Linked DNA regions of Homo sapiens. The protein of the gene in region 2 purifies or fractionates together with the protein of the main gene of each other region. This does not show direct contact. Each region holds a gene or a part of one and is shown on either strand. Other genes may lie near its edges.

Evidence for each region. The genes of interacting proteins can lie anywhere in the genome.
Region 1: the proteins of MORN5 (region 2) and BCAT1 purify together in Homo sapiens (affinity purification with mass spectrometry; 2 studies listed by BioGRID and IntAct, with this or other methods). This does not show direct contact.

The regions. Positions count from the first base shown.
Region 1 is NC_000012.12:24,827,067-24,834,107, forward strand, and holds part of BCAT1 (branched-chain-amino-acid aminotransferase, cytosolic), read right to left. Parts: intron 5,798-7,041; coding exon 5,657-5,797; intron 3,724-5,656; exon of another isoform or gene 3,635-3,723; intron 2,832-3,634; coding exon 2,757-2,831; intron 1-2,756.
Region 2 is NC_000009.12:122,197,906-122,200,622, forward strand, and holds the end of MORN5 (MORN repeat-containing protein 5), read left to right. Parts: intron 1-1,979; coding exon 1,980-2,026; 3' UTR 2,027-2,178; downstream 2,179-2,717.

The DNA.
Region 1 (7,041 bases), on a different chromosome or scaffold from region 2:
TAATGTCATCTGCTAAGAAAGCTAATTTAACTTCTTCTTTTCCAATTTGGATGCCCTTTATTTATTTTTCCTGCCTATTTGCCCTGGCCTCTAAACCTCTGTTTTGGAAAAAGGCTTTCATGTAATCTAGCCAGTTATGTATTTTTTGTTCTATTTGTGTTCTTTATTTGAGCAAAACTGTAATAATTTATTATTTTCAGATTTACTCAGGCAACCTTAAAAAAATTAAAATGCCTAAGCCATCCATGCAGAAATTTTTATTAGCTACTCTTCAAATTACTTGTAAGTGTTGCTGTGTACAAAGGTAGAAAACAACTCTGACTAAATTTTATTTCTTCCAATATTAAGATATTCCTTTACTTAGCTTACAGAAAATTCTCATAGAAAACCTTTGCTGGAGAGCAGAAGTATGGCAGCTCATTGATTAAAAAACCACAATCAAGGCCAGGGTGCGGTGGCTCATGCCTGTAATCTCAGCACTTTGGGAGGCTAAGGTGGGCAAATCACTTGAGGCTAGGAGTTTGAGACCAGCCTGGCCAACATGGCGAAACCTCGACTCTACTAAAAATACAAAAATTAGCCAGGCATGATGGTGCATGCCCATAATCCCTGCTGTGTGGGAGGCTGAGGCACAAGAATCACTTGAACCCAGGAGGCAGGGGTTGCAGTGAGCTGAGATTGCACCACTGCACCCCAGCCTGAGCAACAGAGTAAGACTCTGTCTCAAAAAAACAAACAGAAACAAAAACACACTTTCTTTCTTTTTAATACTGTAAATTTGGCAGAAAACTTGCTGAGTAAGTCTCTTTTAAAACTGCCTTTTAAACTCTCTTTTAAACTTTTATTTTTATTTTATTTCCCTTTTTTTAGAGGAAGGTTCTCACTATGTTGCCTAGGCTAGTCTTGAACACCTGGCCTCAAGCGATCCTCCTGTCTTGGCCTCCCATAGTGTTGGGATTATAGGTGTGAGCCACTGCACCCAGCCAGAAATGCCATTTTTATCACTACCCAAGGACCTCCATTGCTCTCTGGAGGCCTGTTGCATTCTCAGCCACCTTTAAGTTTCACTTAGTTTCATGACTTAATGCCATCCGACATCACTCAAATGATCAAACTTTATTTTACTTTTCAATGTAAGTCTCAGGCCCTCTTGGATATTTTTACTAATTGACAAGGATAGTAACTGGCTTCAACAAAGTCTTCTAACTTGTGAAATGCTTGCAAATTACAGGATAATCTCTTTTCTGAGTAGCCCAGTGTTATCTGGTATTTAGCATGCCTGCTTAACTGCCTGATGAGGCATTACTGTAGATTATTGCTCAGAAAAAAAATAGGCAAAACAAAGTTAGCAGTATGAAAAAATAGACGTGTATACTCTTTGATCCCAGATTTATCCTTAGGAAGTAATCGAGGATGTACTGTCCATACTAGTGAAAAAAAAATTGCCAACAACATAAATGTTCAATAATATAATTTTTTAAAAAAATTATGGTACATCAATATAATGGAATTCAATTAAACTTTATAAATGGTGTTGGAGAAAACTACTTATTGATATAAAAAAGCAAAGCATTTATTCAGTGAAAAAACATGTAACAAAATTATGTACAATATGATCCCATTTTGTTAGGAAAAAATAACTATCTAAAAGTATACTGGCTGGGCATGGTGGCTCACGGCTGTAATCCCAGCACTTTGGGAAGCCAAGGCGGGTGGATCACCTGAGGTCAAGAGTTCAAGACCAGCCTGGCCAACAGGGCAAAACCTCATCTCTACTAAAAATACAAAAATTAGCCGGGAACGGTGGCATGAGACCTGTAATCCCAGCTACTCGGGAGGCTGAGGCAGAAGAATCGCTTGAACCCAGGAGGTGGAGGTTGTAGTGAGCTGAGATCATGCCACTGTTCTCCAGCCTGGGTGACACAGCGAGACTTAGTCTCAAAAATAAATAAGTAAATAAATAAATAAATAAATAAATAAATAAATAAAGTATATAAATGCTTACAAAATATTGAAGGTTAAGACATCAAAAAATGGCAGGGCACAGTGGTTCATGCCTGTAATCCCAACAATTTAGGAGGCCAAGGCAGGTGGATTACCTTAGGTCAGGAGTTCAAGACCAGCCTGGCCAACATGGTGAAATCCCATCTCTACTAAAAACACAAAAATTAGCTGGGCATGGTGGCGCACACCTATAATCCCAGCTACTCGGGAGGCTGAGGTAGGAAAATTGCTTGAACCCGGGAGGCAGAGGTTGCAGTGAGCCAAGATCGTGCCATCGTACTCCAGCCTGGGCAACAAGAGTGAAACTCCAGCTCAAAAATAAAAAGACATAAAAAATTAACAGTGATTATATCTCAGTGTTGGAATCACATGCACTGTAATTTTCTTCCTGAAGTTGCTTCTACTTTCAAATTTTTTCTTCCTTTTTTTAACAAAAGTTATGTTATCCTTCTTAATGAGATTTTTAAATGTTACCAAAAATTACATCTATTTTTTAATGTTAAGTAATGTGGAGTCCTGAACAATATTTTCTTTCTTTTTTTAAAACATACATCTTCTTTCCCATTTCTGCTTTGCTCATGCCCACACATTGTGTTGGGAATATCTTCCTTAAATTTAACTTATTGATCTCAAATTGTATTATTTAATCCTCTTCATTGAAATATAATTTAGTTGTAAGCTCTGACAGAAATAAGGTGACATAAAAAAAAGAAAAGAAAAGGAAAGAAAAGAAAAGAAAAGAAAAGCTTTACCTGGATATCAGTTAATTTGCTCAAGATGCGGCTTGCCAGCTTAGGACCATTCTCCATAGTTGGAATGTGTATTGTCTACAAAAGAAAGGGAAATGAGATAATTTGAGGGTACTCATGTATATGGTGATAACAGATAAGACACTCAAGCAATTCTGCTATACTAAGGCAATTCCACTGAAGTTAAGGAATAGCACTAAAACCTACTGACTCTGAGTGCTAGCACCTTATGCCAAAGACTTTCATATCCAAAATTTGAATAAAAACTAGCCAATGACAGGTTATACATTGCCTACCTACCAATTAATTTTAGGGCATAACTGGTTTGTATACCAGCCTTCAGGATCATTTGAAGAACCAAGGAGGAGCTACAGTTACCTAAAATAGTGGCTAAACTTAAAGAACCCTACCTCTTCCAAGATTCTGAGAATCTGTAAGGATGAATGATTGTCTTCTACATATTAACCCTCTGGCTAATATGAGAACTCAAAGATATTTTGCCACAGTTTAATGCAAGTCATTCTGGGAGCATAAATTAAAGCAAGTCTATGACTTCATAAAAGGGGCTTCTATACCTATCTCTGGCCCAAGGTAAACTTCCAGGGGCCACTACCTCCACAATATTGGATAGCATGATTAAATGCATGGCTGAAAGAGATTTCATGCTTCTAATTTGTATCTGAGTCATGCCTACTCATGCCTTGCTGGCTTGCAGGTTTTGATAGTTTGATTTTAGGAGATAGTCTGTGCTCTCAAACACTTTTCATATTATACCCTTTAGTATAATATGATAATTATATATACTTACTTTTTGGCTGTAAATGCTTCCTAAGCCTGGATCATTAAAATTATGCTAAACTTTATAAACTTCTTATTTCTAGAAGTGAAATAATAATTCAACTTAAAAAAAATCTGGCCTAATGACAACTTCAGTGGATGGATCACATTACCTTGATGCATTCTTATCAATGTAAGTATTGACATGAAACAGAACAATTCTTCTCCCATGAAACAGTCTATCTGTTGATGCAATTATGTCAAGAGCAATCCCTTAAAAGCAAGTTCTAAAACCTCAACAAATGAAGCAGCCATTATTAAAGTCAGAGGAGTTGAGCAAAACTCCAATCAGCTGAGGGAAAATAACTCTAAAGTAAAATTTGAAAACCAGTGGAGTTTGCATTTACGGTTGACACTTGAACAACACGGGTTTGAACTACACAAGTTCACTTATACGTGGACTTTCTTCTGCCTCTGCCACTCCTAAAACAGCAAGACCAATCCCTCCTCCTCCTCCTCCTCCTCAGCCTACTCAACATGATGGACAATGAGGATGAAGACCTTTATGATGATCCACTTCCATGTAATGAATAGTAAATATATTTTCCCTTCCCCATGATTTTCGTAACTTACTTTATTGTAAGAATACATATATAACATACATAACATACAAAATATGTGCCAATCGACTGTTTTTGTTGTTGATAAGGCTTCCGGTGAACAGCAGGCTACTAGTAGTTAAGTTTTTGGGAAGTCAAAAGTTATATGTGGGCCGGGCATGGTGACTCACGCCTGTAATACCAGCACTTTGGGAGGTCAAGGCAGGTGAATCACTTGAACTCAAGAGTTTGAGACCAGCCTGTGAAACATCTTGAAACCCCGTCTCTACAAAAAATACTAAAATTAGCTGGGTGTGGTGGTGCACACCTGTGGTCCCAGCTACTTGGGAGACTGAGGTGAGAGGATCGCTTGAGCTTGGGAGGCGGAGGTTGCAGTGAGCCGAGATTGTGCCCCTGCACTCCAGTACAGGTGACAGAGAAAGACCCCGTTTAAAAAAACAAACAAACAAAAAAAGTTGTATGTGGATTTTTCAACTGCATGGGGGTTGACACCCCTAATCCCTGTGTTGTTCAAGGATCTGCTATAATATGAATAACTTAAGCCAGTTCACATTATAAGACTAATACTTACATGCCTTTAAGTTATAAAGTTAGATGCCAATGTTAATCATAAGTATTGGAGCTTTGTTATAAAGTGAAAAGCAAAACAATTTGACAAGAAAACAAAAGTATGGCACATATAAAATCAGACTAATTTACTAAGAGGAGAACATTTCTTCCAACCAAATCCTCAAATTCCTTTTGTAAGATTTTAGTAAATGCACCAGGTTTGCCAATGAATAATTCTTGTAAAGTGGTCTACTTACTATTAATGATAACAGCATTAATAGTAAAAAAAAATCAAGGGATTGACCACTCGAATGCATTTTCCATAACTATTTGCCATTCCTAATCCAGTGGTTTGGAAGTACTTTTGGTTAACCAGAAACTGAAATGTAACTACCTATAGAGCCTTCCCTAGTGAGCTGGTAGGAAGGAAGAGAGAAGAGTAGAAGACTGTCGGCATAGCTCCAATCCCGACATGTAGGTAAGACAGATCTTACACGTGTCCAAGGACAAAACTAACTTCCCACCATGTTTAAGCTTACATGAAATCACTGGAAACATAGTAGATATATGCTAATACAGTTTCATCTGGATAAACTGTCCCAGTTATTTTTTTTGTAGTGCCAAGTTAAAAAACAAAAACAACAACAAAAAAGACCTAGCATGGTGCGGTGGCGCACTCCTGTAATCCCAGCAACTCAGGAGGCTGAAGCAGAAGGATTGCGTGAGCCCAGGAGTTTGAGGCTGCAGTGAGCTATGATCACACCAGTGAATAGCCACTGCACTCCAGCCTGGGCAACACAGCGAGACTCCATCTCTTTAAAATAAAGAAAAACAACAACAACGACAAAACTTTTGCATCTTGGGTCTGGGTCCAGATACAATTTTATTCATACACTTAAATTAAATGTAATTTAATGTGATTGGAAATGATAGGAAATGAGGAAATACTTGTCGTACCTCGCCTTTGTACAGTATATCAGAAACTGGGCAAACAACACAGGCTGTACCAGAGCCAAACATCTCTCTCACTCTGTTCCCCTCCAGGGCTGTTGTCAAGTCATCCATGGTGAGGTATCTCTCTGACACCTTAAATTCACCCTGCATGGAATATAAAAAATAACAAGTATATTTTAAAGGAAAAGGCATGCAAAACAATTGCAATACTTACTGTTCTGCTTAACATTCTGATTGCACTTAGACAAGGTCACAATCATCCTTTAAGGGAAAGCTGGAAGTGGCACACCATCTTACTGGTGAACACATCGAGGTGTTAAGTAACCTACTTCAAGGTCACAGATTTATATATGAGATTATCAGAATATAAAATATAAGATTATCACCACAAGACACATGGTATACTTTAACATATGCCTTCTTTTTTGCCTTCTTATTTGTTAACTTGTATAAAGTCTCACAAAATTGATGCATCCCAAATGCTGCTTGATGCATGCTCCGTGTTAACAGTGTCTTAGGCCGGGCACGGTGGCTCATGCCTGTAATCTCTGCATTTGGGGAGGCTGAGGCAGGCAGATTACTTGAGGTCAGGAGTTTGAGACCAGCCTGGCCAACCTGGTAAAACCCTGTCTCTACTAAAAATACAAAAATTAGCCAGGCATGGTGGCGGGTGCCTGTAATCCCAGCTACTCAGGAGGCTGAGGCAGGAGAATCGCTTGAACTCAGGAGGCAGAGGTTGCAGTGAACCAAGATCACGTCACTGCAGTCCAGCCTGGGTGACGGAGTGAGACTCTGTCTCCAAAAACAAAACAAAACAAAAAAATCAGTGTCTTAAAACCTACTTTACCATAAAGGAGAACAATGTATTATATAATATTAATAATTATAGCTACCATTTATCAAGCACCCGCTATTATGCCAAGTTCTGTAATTTTAAGGGTGAGTACTATCATCCCCATTTTACAGATGAGGAAACTAAGGTTCAAGGAGGTTGAAGGGCATCTCCAGGGCCACAAAGGAAGTAAGTGACAGAAACTCAATTTGAACCCAGGTCTGATCTGATTGGCTCCAAATTTGGTACTCTTTCTACGTTTGTCTCTTTCTTTTTTTTTTTTTTTTAAGACAGGGTCTTGCCCTGTCACCCAGGCTGGAATGCAGTGGCATAATCTTGGCTCATTGCAGCCTCGACCTCCCAGGCCCAAGTGATCCTCCTGTCTCAGTCTCCTGAGCACCTGGGACTACAGGTGTATGCTGCCATGCCCAACTAGGTTTTATATTTTATATTTTATTTTGTAAAGATAGGGGTCTCCCTATGTTGCCCAGGCTGGGCTCATGTGATCCTCCCACCTCAGCCTCCCAAAGTGCCAAAGTGCTGGGATTATAGTTGT
Region 2 (2,717 bases):
GGCAGCCTCCCCAGAGGAAACTGAGGCTCACTGGCTGCTTGCCAGAGTGTGCCAGGCAGCAAGCCGTTTTCCTTAGGTCTCATGTAAAGAAATGGTGGGCAGGTGGTTAGTGATGTGGAGGCAGCCTCAGCTCCTGGCGTGCTCACATCTGCCCTGGGGTGAGAGGTCAGGCTGCAGAGCCTGGTGAACCTTGGTTGGAATCCACTGGCGATGGACTTAGGACAAGGCTCTCCCCTACCTGACTGGGCTGTTACAAAGATCCAATGAGACACAGTGTCTGCAAAGCACCAAGCACACATAGGCTGTCTGTGAGCCTCCATCTCTCTGCCCCTGGGTCTGGTGCCTTTCACACAAAAGGAAGGCATCCCTGGCAGGGGATCTGATTCAGGCAAGCTTTCCGCCAGCCCTCTGTATTTCAGCTCTCAGGGAGTGCCCTTGTTCCCAAGCATCTGCCATTTGTCACCCAAGGAGGGTGGACACACCCATCCTCCCATCTCTTAGGCAGGAGGCACTGGGCTAGACACAGGGTAAGGAGAGGAGGCAAGAACTCCTCCAGTACTCTGGCCCTCAGGAGAACTGGTTAAAGGCAGGGAGTGGCACCAAGGGAAGGGAGGAGTGGCAGGAAGGTGGAGAGGCAGGAAGGCAGGGAGAAGGCAGCGTGGTGTGAAAAAAGCATGGGCAGCTGGAAGGACGGTGCAGGAAGGATGAGCAGGACTCGTTGACCCTCCTCCTGGAAGGAACGTAACCCCAGAGACATTCTCCACGTATCTGTGAAGGAGTGTGGCCAAGAACGCTTGTCCCAGCATTGTTCCTGGTAGTGGGAGTTGCAGGCAACCTCCGCGTCCACCACCGGCATGGAGAGGAAAATGTGACGGAAGCCAAGCATGGAATATTAGGCAACAGTAAGAAGCAAAGAGCTGGATGTACACACAGCAACAAGAATAGATCTTGAGTGAAAGCTGTGAGACATAATGAAAGCCACAGCACAATGCCATTTCTGTAAATTAAAAACACATTTGTACACAAAACAACAGCACATATTTTACAGAGCAACATGCATTTTGAGGGGTCTCTATCCCACCATTGGTGTAGGTCCCTGCAGTGGTGGAGGAGGGGCCCGGTATGGGTTTGGAGGAGAAAGGAGGAAAAATGAAAATAAAGTAAATCCACGGAGGGGTCTTGCACAGAGAGATGATGGCAGCGTGCTGTGGACTGAATGTGATTCACTCAAGTCTCTTTATTTGAGGTTTAAAAAACAGCACAGGCTTTATAGCTGGACAATCCTAGGTTCTAGTCTGAGCTCTCCCACATACTGACCCTGTGGCTGTGGACAAGTGCCTCGGCCTCTGTGAGCCTCTGTTTGTTCATCTGTAAAACGGTGGTGAAGGCTTGCCCATTGCGTGGTTGGTCACGAAGATTAAACTAAGGAGACACTGCGTTTAGGGCTTTCAGGCACAGCGGCGAGCTCCTGCCCCTCTCCGTTCCCCACTGAAAGGCCTGGAGTAAACAAGAGGGTGTTAGTCCCCTGGAGAAACCATGGGTTCTTGAAAGGGTCAAGAATGGAGAGCCTAGAAAGGAAATGAAGATCTCAGGACTCTGTCTCCTAGCACCACCGGCAAGGCCTAGACCCACTGTCCTGGGGCTGTCGTGCGTGGGCTGTCAGACCAGGCAAGTGCCCGACTGTGAAGCAGCTGCTCTCTGCCTGTCAGGATGAGTCCAGCTTAGGGTGGCCAGACTCCTCATGCTTGCCTCCGCCAGCAGCACCCACAGTTAGAAACCCTTCTGTGTTCAATTTCCCCAAGACCAGCCACTCCGAGGAATTCAGTGTAAATGAAAGGTCTGTTCCTCCCCACACAAAACTACACAGACTGGCCATCGACGGACCATCCCAGTCCCAACGCCCCACCTGGGGAACCCCCCAGGCCAGGAAAGGTCCCAGCGAGCACCAAGCATGACCAGCTCTTCCTCTTTCCTTGCAGATGATGACGAGCATGAGTGGATCACCCGTACCTGTCGAAAGGGCTAGGATGAGATCGTGGGTCACAGGCCCGAGCCGTGAACTCTGTGGCTGCCTCCACCAGAGGTTTCCATCTGCCCTACTAGCATTGGCTGCCCTGGGGGACGGGCTGTAGTTCTAGAACCTGATTTTAACTCAGGAATAAAGACTTTCTGCGGTCAGTGGCCCCAGGTGTATTTTCCTTAAAAGATTGTTCCTCAGTGGGCATCATTTAACCTGGACAAAATTGTGAGCTATAGATATTCCCAGGCCCCACCCTAGACCTCCCAATCAGAATCTCTGGGAATGGGGCCTAGTAATTTGCATTCCCAGCATTTCTCATGCATCTGAACGTTTGAGAACCATCTCTTTATAATAATAGATAGATGTAATTGAGCACTAACCGGCGCAGGTAGTGCGTGTGCATTATCTCTGCTCCTCACAACAGCCTTGCAAGGGGAAGGCTTTTGCAGATGGGGAATCTGAGGTTCAGAGAGACAGAGTGACTTGCTTGGTCTCAGAGGGCAGTAGGACCTGATCACTGTGCCCAGTCCTGCAGCAGTCATGGGTTCTTAGTTTCTGTTTCTGGTTGGGCCAGTGAAGCCCCTTCCTCATCCCTCTTTTCTGCTTATCACTAGAGACAGAAACTAAAAACCATGGCTTCAGGCTGCTGAAAGCCTAAAACAAAACAGAACACAAAAACAACAACAACAAAATAAGG